Linked DNA regions of Homo sapiens. The protein of the gene in region 2 interacts with the protein of the main gene of each other region in a biochemical or structural test. Each region holds a gene or a part of one and is shown on either strand. Other genes may lie near its edges. The genes, in order: DMPK and PPP1R12A.

The links.
Region 1: of the proteins of PPP1R12A (region 2) and DMPK, one has a biochemical effect on the other in vitro, tested with the Homo sapiens proteins (one study listed by IntAct).

The regions. Positions count from the first base shown.
Region 1 is NC_000019.10:45,779,290-45,787,535, reverse strand, and holds the start of DMPK (myotonin-protein kinase), read left to right. Parts: upstream 1-5,045; 5' UTR 5,046-5,164; coding exon of another isoform or gene 5,165-5,183; coding exon 5,184-5,343; exon of another isoform or gene 5,344-7,154; coding exon of another isoform or gene 7,155-7,213; exon of another isoform or gene 7,214-7,476; coding exon of another isoform or gene 7,477-7,666; coding exon 7,667-7,758; intron 7,759-7,916; exon of another isoform or gene 7,917-8,013; coding exon 8,014-8,097; intron 8,098-8,176; coding exon 8,177-8,246. Other genes in the region: DMWD (dystrophia myotonica WD repeat-containing protein), read left to right, coding at 665-1,942, 2,821-2,895, 3,246-3,293. UniProt on the Homo sapiens protein: Non-receptor serine/threonine protein kinase which is necessary for the maintenance of skeletal muscle structure and function.
Region 2 is NC_000012.12:79,772,877-79,778,182, forward strand, and holds the end of PPP1R12A (protein phosphatase 1 regulatory subunit 12A), read right to left. Parts: intron 3,140-5,306; coding exon 3,053-3,139; 3' UTR 692-3,052; downstream 1-691. UniProt on the Homo sapiens protein: Key regulator of protein phosphatase 1C (PPP1C). Mediates binding to myosin. As part of the PPP1C complex, involved in dephosphorylation of PLK1. Capable of inhibiting HIF1AN-dependent suppression of HIF1A activity.

The DNA.
Region 1 (8,246 bases), on a different chromosome or scaffold from region 2:
AGTAAAGATCGGGGGAGGGTTAGACAGATACAGTGGTCCCCAACCATTTTGGCACCAGGGACTGGTCTTATGGAAGACAGTTTTTCCACAGACTGTTGGGGGGATGGTTTTGGGATGAAACCGTTCTGCCTCTGATCATCAGGTGTTAGATTCTAATAAGGAGCGCACACCTAGATCCCTCGCATGCATAGTTCATGGTGGGGTTCGCACTCTTACGAGGATTGAATGGTGCGCTGCTCCGGTAGGAGGCTGGGCTCAGGCTGTAATGCCTGCTCGCCCACCACTCACCTCCTGCTGCATGGCCTGGTTCCTAACAGGCCACGGACCACTACTGTTCCATGGCCCGGAGGTTGAGGACCCCGAGATACAGGACAATTCTGTGGCAAGCAGGACTGTCCCCTCGCCAAAGATGGGACATCGAGGCTCCTTGGAGCACCCTGTGGCCACCTTGCAGCAGCCTCTGTTTCCCCATGTTTCCATGACCTGGTGTCCATCTGTCTTCCCCAGTTTGGGAGCTTCTCTCCGAGGAGGACCTGGGCCTGGTGTGGCACCTGCTGTGTGAGCGGGGCCATGTCCAACGGCCTTCTTGGGGACTTTGGGTCGGGGAGAAGTTCTGCCTGGGTTTTACTGCCTTCTCCCAACCCCACACTGTCTCCCCTGGCAGCGGTTGATCGACAAGACCAAGGTGACATATCTGAAGTGGCTGCCTGAGTCGGAGAGCCTGTTCCTGGCATCACACGCCAGTGGCCACCTGTACCTGTACAACGTCAGCCACCCCTGCGCCTCGGCCCCGCCCCAGTACAGCCTGCTGAAGCAGGGCGAGGGCTTCTCTGTCTATGCTGCCAAGAGCAAGGCACCCCGCAACCCGCTGGCCAAGTGGGCGGTGGGTGAGGGGCCCCTCAACGAGTTCGCCTTCTCGCCCGATGGCCGGCACCTGGCCTGTGTGAGCCAGGATGGCTGCCTGCGCGTCTTCCACTTCGACTCCATGCTCCTGCGTGGGCTCATGAAGAGCTACTTTGGGGGCCTGCTGTGTGTGTGCTGGAGCCCTGACGGCCGCTACGTGGTGACGGGTGGCGAAGATGACCTGGTCACCGTGTGGTCCTTCACCGAGGGCCGCGTGGTGGCTCGAGGCCATGGCCACAAGTCCTGGGTCAACGCTGTGGCCTTTGACCCCTACACCACAAGGGCAGAGGAGGCGGCGACAGCAGCCGGTGCTGATGGGGAGCGGAGCGGCGAAGAGGAGGAGGAGGAGCCCGAGGCTGCGGGCACAGGCTCGGCCGGGGGCGCCCCGCTCTCTCCACTGCCCAAGGCTGGCTCCATTACTTACCGCTTTGGCTCGGCGGGCCAGGACACGCAGTTCTGCCTGTGGGACCTCACTGAAGACGTGCTCTACCCGCACCCCCCCCTGGCCCGCACCCGCACCCTCCCTGGCACACCTGGCACCACGCCACCGGCCGCCAGCAGCTCGAGGGGTGGCGAGCCTGGCCCAGGCCCCCTGCCTCGCTCGCTGTCCCGCTCCAACAGTCTCCCGCACCCAGCTGGCGGGGGCAAGGCGGGCGGCCCGGGTGTGGCGGCAGAGCCTGGCACACCATTCAGCATTGGCCGCTTCGCCACGCTCACACTGCAGGAGCGGCGGGACCGGGGGGCAGAGAAGGAGCACAAGCGCTACCACAGCCTGGGCAACATCAGCCGGGGTGGCAGTGGCGGCAGTGGCAGTGGTGGGGAGAAGCCCAGCGGCCCTGTTCCCCGCAGCCGCCTGGACCCCGCCAAGGTGCTGGGCACTGCGCTGTGCCCGCGCATCCACGAGGTGCCCCTGCTGGAGCCCCTTGTGTGCAAGAAGATCGCCCAGGAGCGGCTCACAGTCCTCCTGTTCCTGGAGGACTGCATCATCACTGCCTGCCAGGAGGGCCTCATCTGCACCTGGGCCCGGCCGGGCAAGGCGGTGAGTGGCCCCACACCAGCCTGCCGGGGACCTGGCAGGACCTTTCGTGGGAAGAGGCAGGCATTGGCAGAGAGAGGGCTTTGTTGCTGTCACAGCCTCTGGCTCCGTGGGGTGAGGGGAAGCCAGGGAAATCTTAGTGTCTCAGTACAAGACCTCTCAGATCCTTAGAGTGAGGGGGTCTAGCCCTAGGCAGCAGGCAGCAGAAAGAGGGGTGGGTGTGAGAGCCAGCTAGGAATTGGGGCATCCAAGGCTGGCCGTCTGAAGGGCAGCAGATGGGCCCCACATGGCCAGGTCTTACTGCCTGTCACTCGAACCAGAATCTATTTCTGTTGAACATCTGTTTTTTAAATCGTGAAACTTTTTTGAGTACTTCAGGCCAAAACTAGGGGCGAGCTCAAGCCTGTGGGCATGGCTGCCAGCCTGGGTCTGGGACTCAGGATCTGAGCCTCCTGCTGAAGGCACAGGCTGGGAATCCCAGGCCTGGGTTCCAGTCCCACTCCCTCTGTGACCCTGGACAAGTCACTGCCCCCTCTGACCTCCAACTCATCACCTCTTAGAACAGAGCCTGTAGGATGGGCAGTGGGTGGATGTGCTTGCCTCCTGGGTGGGCTGTGGCGTTGGGAAGGTCATAGTAGGCGAATCAGGCCTGGCATCTTGTAAGTTCGGAGCTCGTCTTGGGTGTCTCAGCTTCTTAGGGCTTGGACTCAGTTGCCCAGGGTCCTGGAGGCCGTGGCTTGGTTCCTCAGATCCTCAGTTTTGGAATCGTAGAGTCCTGAGTCCCTAGAACTTGAGAGCACAGTCTGAGTGACTCAGAGGCAAGAGTGGTGGGATTTGGGGAGTCTGGTTGAGTCCTAAAAGAGACCCCTCTGTCTCCGTAGTTCACAGACGAGGAGACCGAGGCCCAGACAGGGGAAGGAAGTTGGCCCAGGTCACCCAGCAAGTCAGTGGTAGAGGTAGGACTGTCCCTGAGTTCTTTCCCCAGCACCTCAGGGTCCCTCCCAAGTTAGAAGGGAGCTCCAGTTTCCCCCTCCCCTCCCACCCTTACCCTTACCCCATGGTCTCACTCAGGATCCGCCAAGGACTTTGATTATTGCGTGAAAGTGCTGACTGCCAGGACAGGAAGCTAGCTAAGATGCAAGTTCCCAGCCTAGAGCAGTGGCCTCTGGGGGGTCTAGGGCGGACCCAAGGGCAAGGCCAGGGTGGCAGCAGCTTTGGGGACTCTGGGCTGGCTCCCTCCCCTTGACACTGGCTGAAGCCCAGGTGGTCTCTAACCCCTCCCATCTCTCCCTCTCATCTTCCCCAGGGCATCTCCTCCCAACCAGGCAACTCCCCGAGTGGCACAGTGGTGTGAAGCCATGGATATCGGGCCCCCCCAACCCCATGCCCCCAGCCTCCTAGCCATAACCCTCCCTGCTGACCTCACAGATCAACGTATTAACAAGACTAACCATGATGGATGGACTGCTCCAGTCCCCCCACCTGCACAAAATTTGGGGGCCCCCCAGACTGGCCCGGACACGGGCGATGTAATAGCCCTTGTGGCCTCAGCCTTGTCCCCCACCCACTGCCAAGTACAATGACCTCTTCCTCTGAAACATCAGTGTTACCCTCATCCCTGTCCCCAGCATGTGACTGGTCACTCCTGGGGAGAGACTCCCCGCCCCTGCCACAAGAGCCCCAGGTCTGCAGTGTGCCCCTCAGTTGAGTGGGCAGGGCCGGGGGTGGTCCAGCCCTCGCCCGGCCCCCACCCCAGCTGCCCTTGCTATTGTCTGTGCTTTTGAAGAGTGTTAAATTATGGAAGCCCCTCAGGTTCCTCCCTGTCCCGCAGGACCTCTTATTTATACTAAAGTTCCCTGTTTTCTCAGCGGGTCTGTCCCCTTCGGAGGAGATGATGTAGAGGACCTGTGTGTGTACTCTGTGGTTCTAGGCAGTCCGCTTTCCCCAGAGGAGGAGTGCAGGCCTGCTCCCAGCCCAGCGCCTCCCACCCCTTTTCATAGCAGGAAAAGCCGGAGCCCAGGGAGGGAACGGACCTGCGAGTCACACAACTGGTGACCCACACCAGCGGCTGGAGCAGGACCCTCTTGGGGAGAAGAGCATCCTGCCCGCAGCCAGGGCCCCTCATCAAAGTCCTCGGTGTTTTTTAAATTATCAGAACTGCCCAGGACCACGTTTCCCAGGCCCTGCCCAGCTGGGACTCCTCGGTCCTTGCCTCCTAGTTTCTCAGGCCTGGCCCTCTCAAGGCCCAGGCACCCCAGGCCGGTTGGAGGCCCCGACTTCCACTCTGGAGAACCGTCCACCCTGGAAAGAAGAGCTCAGATTCCTCTTGGCTCTCGGAGCCGCAGGGAGTGTGTCTTCCCGCGCCACCCTCCACCCCCCGAAATGTTTCTGTTTCTAATCCCAGCCTGGGCAGGAATGTGGCTCCCCGGCCAGGGGCCAAGGAGCTATTTTGGGGTCTCGTTTGCCCAGGGAGGGCTTGGCTCCACCACTTTCCTCCCCCAGCCTTTGGGCAGCAGGTCACCCCTGTTCAGGCTCTGAGGGTGCCCCCTCCTGGTCCTGTCCTCACCACCCCTTCCCCACCTCCTGGGAAAAAAAAAAAAAAAAAAAAAAAAAGCTGGTATAAAGCAGAGAGCCTGAGGGCTAAATTTAACTGTCCGAGTCGGAATCCATCTCTGAGTCACCCAAGAAGCTGCCCTGGCCTCCCGTCCCCTTCCCAGGCCTCAACCCCTTTCTCCCACCCAGCCCCAACCCCCAGCCCTCACCCCCTAGCCCCCAGTTCTGGAGCTTGTCGGGAGCAAGGGGGTGGTTGCTACTGGGTCACTCAGCCTCAATTGGCCCTGTTTCAGCAATGGGCAGGTTCTTCTTGAAATTCATCACACCTGTGGCTTCCTCTGTGCTCTACCTTTTTATTGGGGTGACAGTGTGACAGCTGAGATTCTCCATGCATTCCCCCTACTCTAGCACTGAAGGGTTCTGAAGGGCCCTGGAAGGAGGGAGCTTGGGGGGCTGGCTTGTGAGGGGTTAAGGCTGGGAGGCGGGAGGGGGGCTGGACCAAGGGGTGGGGAGAAGGGGAGGAGGCCTCGGCCGGCCGCAGAGAGAAGTGGCCAGAGAGGCCCAGGGGACAGCCAGGGACAGGCAGACATGCAGCCAGGGCTCCAGGGCCTGGACAGGGGCTGCCAGGCCCTGTGACAGGAGGACCCCGAGCCCCCGGCCCGGGGAGGGGCCATGGTGCTGCCTGTCCAACATGTCAGCCGAGGTGCGGCTGAGGCGGCTCCAGCAGCTGGTGTTGGACCCGGGCTTCCTGGGGCTGGAGCCCCTGCTCGACCTTCTCCTGGGCGTCCACCAGGAGCTGGGCGCCTCCGAACTGGCCCAGGACAAGTACGTGGCCGACTTCTTGCAGTGGGGTGAGTGCCTACCCTCGGGGCTCCTGCAGATGGGGTGGGGGTGGGGCAGGAGACAGGTCTGGGCACAGAGGCCTGGCTGTTGGGGGGGCAGGATGGCAGGATGGGCATGGGGAGATCCTCCCATCCTGGGGCTCAGAGTGTGGACCTGGGCCCTGGGGCAACATTTCTCTGTCCTATGCCACCACTCTGGAGGGGCAGAGTAAGGTCAGCAGAGGCTAGGGTGGCTGTGACTCAGAGCCATGGCTTAGGAGTCACAGCAGGCTAGGCTGCCAACAGCCTCCCATGGCCTCTCTGCACCCCGCCTCAGGGTCAGGGTCAGGGTCATGCTGGGAGCTCCCTCTCCTAGGACCCTCCCCCCAAAAGTGGGCTCTATGGCCCTCTCCCCTGGTTTCCTGTGGCCTGGGGCAAGCCAGGAGGGCCAGCATGGGGCAGCTGCCAGGGGCGCAGCCGACAGGCAGGTGTTCGGCGCCAGCCTCTCCAGCTGCCCCAACAGGTGCCCAGGCACTGGGAGGGCGGTGACTCACGCGGGCCCTGTGGGAGAACCAGCTTTGCAGACAGGCGCCACCAGTGCCCCCTCCTCTGCGATCCAGGAGGGACAACTTTGGGTTCTTCTGGGTGTGTCTCCTTCTTTTGTAGGTTCTGCACCCACCCCCACCCCCAGCCCCAAAGTCTCGGTTCCTATGAGCCGTGTGGGTCAGCCACCATTCCCGCCACCCCGGGTCCCTGCGTCCTTTAGTTCTCCTGGCCCAGGGCCTCCAACCTTCCAGCTGTCCCACAAAACCCCTTCTTGCAAGGGCTTTCCAGGGCCTGGGGCCAGGGCTGGAAGGAGGATGCTTCCGCTTCTGCCAGCTGCCTTGTCTGCCCACCTCCTCCCCAAGCCCAGGACTCGGGCTCACTGGTCACTGGTTTCTTTCATTCCCAGCACCCTGCCCCTCTGGCCCTCATATGTCTGGCCCTCAGTGACTGGTGTTTGGTTTTTGGCCTGTGTGTAACAAACTGTGTGTGACACTTGTTTCCTGTTTCTCCGCCTTCCCCTGCTTCCTCTTGTGTCCATCTCTTTCTGACCCAGGCCTGGTTCCTTTCCCTCCTCCTCCCATTTCACAGATGGGAAGGTGGAGGCCAAGAAGGGCCAGGCCATTCAGCCTCTGGAAAAACCTTCTCCCAACCTCCCACAGCCCCTAATGACTCTCCTGGCCTCCCTTTAGTAGAGGATGAAGTTGGGTTGGCAGGGTAAACTGAGACCGGGTGGGGTAGGGGTCTGGCGCTCCCGGGAGGAGCACTCCTTTTGTGGCCCGAGCTGCATCTCGCGGCCCCTCCCCTGCCAGGCCTGGGGCGGGGGAGGGGGCCAGGGTTCCTGCTGCCTTAAAAGGGCTCAATGTCTTGGCTCTCTCCTCCCTCCCCCGTCCTCAGCCCTGGCTGGTTCGTCCCTGCTGGCCCACTCTCCCGGAACCCCCCGGAACCCCTCTCTTTCCTCCAGAACCCACTGTCTCCTCTCCTTCCCTCCCCTCCCATACCCATCCCTCTCTCCATCCTGCCTCCACTTCTTCCACCCCCGGGAGTCCAGGCCTCCCTGTCCCCACAGTCCCTGAGCCACAAGCCTCCACCCCAGCTGGTCCCCCACCCAGGCTGCCCAGTTTAACATTCCTAGTCATAGGACCTTGACTTCTGAGAGGCCTGATTGTCATCTGTAAATAAGGGGTAGGACTAAAGCACTCCTCCTGGAGGACTGAGAGATGGGCTGGACCGGAGCACTTGAGTCTGGGATATGTGACCATGCTACCTTTGTCTCCCTGTCCTGTTCCTTCCCCCAGCCCCAAATCCAGGGTTTTCCAAAGTGTGGTTCAAGAACCACCTGCATCTGAATCTAGAGGTACTGGATACAACCCCACGTCTGGGCCGTTACCCAGGACATTCTACATGAGAACGTGGGGGTGGGGCCCTGGCTGCACCTGAACTGTCACCTGGAGTCAGGGTGGAAGGTGGAAGAACTGGGTCTTATTTCCTTCTCCCCTTGTTCTTTAGGGTCTGTCCTTCTGCAGACTCCGTTACCCCACCCTAACCATCCTGCACACCCTTGGAGCCCTCTGGGCCAATGCCCTGTCCCGCAAAGGGCTTCTCAGGCATCTCACCTCTATGGGAGGGCATTTTTGGCCCCCAGAACCTTACACGGTGTTTATGTGGGGAAGCCCCTGGGAAGCAGACAGTCCTAGGGTGAAGCTGAGAGGCAGAGAGAAGGGGAGACAGACAGAGGGTGGGGCTTTCCCCCTTGTCTCCAGTGCCCTTTCTGGTGACCCTCGGTTCTTTTCCCCCACCACCCCCCCAGCGGAGCCCATCGTGGTGAGGCTTAAGGAGGTCCGACTGCAGAGGGACGACTTCGAGATTCTGAAGGTGATCGGACGCGGGGCGTTCAGCGAGGTAAGCCGAACCGGGCGGGAGCCTGACTTGACTCGTGGTGGGCGGGGCATAGGGGTTGGGGCGGGGCCTTAGAAATTGATGAATGACCGAGCCTTAGAACCTAGGGCTGGGCTGGAGGCGGGGCTTGGGACCAATGGGCGTGGTGTGGCAGGTGGGGCGGGGCCACGGCTGGGTGCAGAAGCGGGTGGAGTTGGGTCTGGGCGAGCCCTTTTGTTTTCCCGCCGTCTCCACTCTGTCTCACTATCTCGACCTCAGGTAGCGGTAGTGAAGATGAAGCAGACGGGCCAGGTGTATGCCATGAAGATCATGAACAAGTGGGACATGCTGAAGAGGGGCGAGGTGAGGGGCTGGGCGGACGTGGGGGGCTTTGAGGATCCGCGCCCCGTCTCCGGCTGCAGCTCCTCCGGGTGCCCTGCAGGTGTCGTGCTTCCGTGAGGAGAGGGACGTGTTGGTGAATGGGGACCGGCGGTGGATCACGCAGCTGCACT
Region 2 (5,306 bases):
TGAAGTACTGGAAATAGAAATAATAGAATTCAATCCTTGTTGTATTAATTTAGTCAATATTAATTTAGTCAATAGTATTAATTTAGGCTTACTACCAGTCCTCTATCAAAGTTCCAAAATCAAAAGTGCCTTTTTTTTTTTTTTTTTTTGAGACGGAGTCTCACTCTGTTGCCCAGGCTGAAGTGCAGTGGCACAATCTTGGCTCACTACAACCTCTGCCTCCCTGGTTCAAGTGATTCTCCTGTCTCAGCCTCCTGAGTAGCTGGGACTACAGGCGATTGCACCATCATACCTGGCTCATTTTTTATTTTTAGTAGAAACGGGGTTTCGCCCTGTTGGCCAGGCTGGTCTCAAACCCCTGACCTCAGGTGATCCTCCCGCCTGGGCCTCCCAACCATGCCTGGCTAAAAGTGCCTCTTATTTATAGATGTGTTAGCAGGTCGAACCTTGGACAAATCTAAATTGGAAAATGATCTAATATTAAAGTAAACTGTATGTTTCAATGGAATATTACCTTTATATGTATCGCTAAGCCTATGTTTGCAGATAAGAAAAAGCACAGGTTTACTTTAAGAAAAAAAAAAAAAACAATGTTTATGGAAGCGAAATCTTGTGCTACAAAGCAACTACCCTGAAACTCACTGTTATTAATTTTTACCCACTTATTATCATAAAAAAACTAGTTCTCAGATTCTGCATACAGACAGCTTTATGTAAAATATATAAACATTTGTCCAAATTGGTACACAGATTGCATAAATATGGCAATTAAGATTGCATTTACAGATGTGCATGTACAATGCTGTGCAAATTATCACAATATTACAATTTCAGAAATTATTCAAATTGGTATCCAAGTAAAGCAATTAGTGAAAAAATACCCATGCAGAATTTAAATATCTCAGAACAAAATTTAAAATGTCTTCATTAAAAGTTCACACATTTAAAATAGTTTTATTCATTTTATTTGTATATGTCAAAATACATTTTTATTTCCAAAATAGTGGGTTTTGCAACTAGTTTCATGCAGAAACAAGGTCTGCTCAATACTACCAATAAAATCAATATAGCACAGTAGCTGTTCAGTTTTAGATACAAAGAATAAATAACCTAAATACAAAACACTAAAATATTAGAAACATGTATTTAATCATTCTTCACAGGCATCCAAACTTCACAAATATAAACCATAGCATGCCTAACTGTTGTGCAACCAGAACATGTTGCAGTCACTCAAACTGATCAGTTATCTGTATATTTTACCTCCACATAAGACCATGGAAATTCTCAATATTCAGACCTACCATTCATACAGTTCAAATATAACCAAAAATAAAACTCCCACAACTATCCTTGTACCTTTAAAATCAAGAATCCTGAGCTTGGTAGTAAGAGCATAACCTTATATCTTCATAAAACCAATCGAGAGAGAGAGGACTTAAAATCCTGCTTACCAAAACACCCTTCCCCAACCCCAAAGTAATCTAAAATAGGCAGTAGAACACAATGACCTTTTAAAATGAAGGGGTACAAATTCACATTTAATATAGTATACAATACAATCAATAATACAATCAGCTACTATAAGCTTTACAATGTACAATTTATTCAAATGGCTGAACTGTTCAGTGGTTAAGGAGACAGTTATGTGCCAGAAAGATGTAGTATTTTTTGCATGGTTTAATGAAAATATAAAAGCTATTTGTCCAAATAAAAGCCATCGTCACTATGTACTTGGTTTTGCGCTTTTTTTTCCTTAAAAAAAAAAAAAGGCCACTGAAATGTATAAAATGGTCTGAACATGATGGTGGTATCAAAGTCGATGCCTCTTCACATGGCAATAACAGTGCATTTAACATTAACTCACGGGTTAATTCTGCAAATGATTTCATAGCATTACTTTGGCTAGCACAACAGTTTTAGACAGCACTCAGATAAATATAGGTATGTGAAATGTAAAGCAATTATCTTATGCAACTTTAATTATGGTTGAGTACTATCAAGTGAAAACTGAAAATAAAAGCACTTTACAGTAGGAAACTTTTGTAAAGATAGGGCTCCACATAATGTGTAACTTTTAAAGTCTTTATATCACATTGTTAGCAAATTTTGTTTTTTAACACTATCATGGAGTAGCCTACTCTGCATTAGCAGACATTTGAAATAAGAAATAGTCAAGCATGCCATGTGGTGGTCTAAAAATCAAAACAATACACTTATTTGTATATACAGCATCACTCAGTACCTGCTAAAATGAATGTGAAGATTACAGAATCTAACATCTTATACTACAATAAAAAAAAAGTGACCAATGAAGCAGAAAATAGGAATTAAAAGATCTAACCTCAAATGACTTTAAAGCATTCATATAAGAAATAAATGCATATTGCACAAACAGTGAAAGCATATGTTCCACCAAGCAATTCAGTTCCAGGTGGGAGACAACACAGCATTAGCCTAATACATGACAATAATCACAGAAGAGCAAGTGTTCTTTTCTGTAATGAAAAAGCTGTGAAAACATAGAAGACTCTGCCACATGAAGAGTTTAGAAGGAAAAAATACAAACCCAAACTTAGATGAAAAGCCAAAAAATTTAAATATCGAAAAACTCGAAACTGTGGCACATCAAAAAATGTTGAGTAACTGTCTTCTGTGAGAGCTGAAAGTTTTTGTTGACACAAAAGTATTTATGTACAACTAAGGCTTACTGGTTAAATATCTGAGGCATATCTGGCCTTGAACACTTTCCTTATATGCTGGAGCTGTAAACAAGTTTTCTCAGTCATTAAAAAAAAATCTTCTCAGCAGCTGCATTAACATGAAACAATGGTCTTGATTAAAAAAAAAAAACAAAAAACAAACCAACAACAACAAAAACACCCCAGAAAATTAAACAAAATGAAACAAAAATTCTAGATAAGAGGGCATTTGGCAGGATATCCGAAAATGACAGTCTCCAAGGATTCTTCCCAGACTTCCAGTGACTGCCAATTATGGTCCACTGGGTTACTAATATGTGCAATTCCATTACTTGCTGCTTTTTTTTTTTTTATTTGGAAAGTTTGCTTATAACTCTGATCAAGGCCCCATTTTCATCCTTTAGCCTCTGGTTGTCTGCTTTTAGGTCTGGTAACATCTATAAAGAGAAAAATTGAAGATCAAGTTTTACCTTCAATATTAAAAGATAAAACATTATTCTTAATAAATGTTATATTTTCACCACAAAACACATGATCAAGCTTTGTCAGTTATATATATTTCTAGTATCTAAAACATGTATCAGGAAGAAGGAAAAAAACCACACCTGGATTTGTAAAGCTAATTAGTTTCATAAATGCTGGAATGAAAGGTTTATTCTCTCCAAATTTTCCATTGAAATTTACTAAATCACTTGATTTTATGACTCACAAGCACACCACATTCCAGCAGCCAAGACAAGCCTGTTTTTGTTAGGATAGGCTCTTAAAAGAGGTTCCTGTCAGCACCTAAACCAAAGACTTTTGCTTTTATGTATGTCAGACCTAAAATCATAATACTTAATATTGTTCCACAAGAAAGTCAAACTACCTAGGAAAACATTGAGGAAATTAGACTTGTTCTAAATTATTAAAATTCCTTAAACGATTCACCTACAGTAGCTCAGTTTAAAATGCCTAAACAATGTCCGATCCCAGATAGATGCTTATTAAATGGTAACAAGCAATTACTATTATTAGAATAGTGCATCATGTTTAAGCTAAAGTAGAAAGTCTGTATCTATGATCCAACTATTACAAAAATAACCAATTTTGAAGCAAATAGCCTCATATCTTCAAACAACACATCTCAATTTTCTGTTGTTTTACAGACAAATTGATGAAGGGGTGAAAATATTACAAGTTAACTGAATACTCTACTAAGGATGATTAAAACTGTATGTTCTTTGCCAGTTTCACTAGGAAATGAAATAGCTCATATTTTTGGTCCCTAAACCATACTTTCCAAAATAGTCCTCTTTCCTCAGTTTTCAAAATGTATTAGTTTATCTAACTTGATAAAAGTAAAACTTCTATTTGCAAAACTAGGTAAAGCAAAATCTTTAAGAAGATTTAATTTTACGTGGAACCAATATGTTCTTATCTGTGTTCAGAATCTTTAAGATATAAAATATAGTAATATTAAGTTTATTCATTTGAATATTTGTAATATAAACTTAAATATAAACTAATGTGGTTCTGACTTCAAATGACATTATTTTGAAAAACATAATGCATGCTTAATCTTCAGCTTCAAAATATATTAATTATATGTAAAATGTTATATACTGTTGGTTTTCTCTCTAGTAAAGAACTGTAAATAATAGTCATATTTTAAGTCCTAAAATATCTGTATAGCTAAAAAATGTGCAAAAGCTTTACAAAAGTACAGATAAGTCTTTAACTTAAATTCCAAAATCATCCCTAATTTTAATGTAGCTCATCAATTGCAATATACAATTAGTGACAATTTCTAACATTCTAAGAAGCCATGCATAATTAGTTATATGATATGCTCCAGACACAATGGCATTAATTTGTAAAAGTGAGCTCTTACAAAACACGCCTACTAATATAAAAACACCTGCCTGGCTCTACCAAGAAGAAATGATGAAACTAAAAATTATAGGTTCACAGACTGCAGTTGCCTATAGAACCCTGAGCGCTTGGCTACCACTCTTGTCAAGGCCCTATTCTCAGTCAGCAGTCGCTCATTTAACTCCCTCAGAGATTGAATTTGCTTTATTTGGTGCAGGTTCTGCAGGAATCAGAACATAAAGAAATAGGAATAAAAAATAAGAAAATGGAAAAGAGTATAATAAGAATGTAATCACAGGTAATTTTTTAAAAATATTACGTCTTAAAGGAACAAGAGATTCAGAAAGGTAAACACTGTATTCCTAAAATTCTATTTCAAACTAAGTAATACATAAGCAAACAAAATACAAAAGATTTGTCTCCAATCTTCAAAGCCATTCAATAATGGTCTAATAACAAACCAAACAATTTAATAATGAAATATCTAAATCTTGAACTTCTAATTCTGTGGGTACAATATACTTACTATGCACTGGTTCATTAATTCACAATGTGATAAAGATTTTATGAAGGACAGTGTGGTAAGAGGTAATCAATTAACTATGCTACTTGTGAAGACATTCAAAACATAATTATTTCTATAGGTAATATGGAGTTTGATAAAATACAGCTCTGCCTGTTCACTCCCCTAATGTCCTTTACTTTCAAAGGAGAACATTTTATAGTAACCCCCTCCACTACTTACTCGCC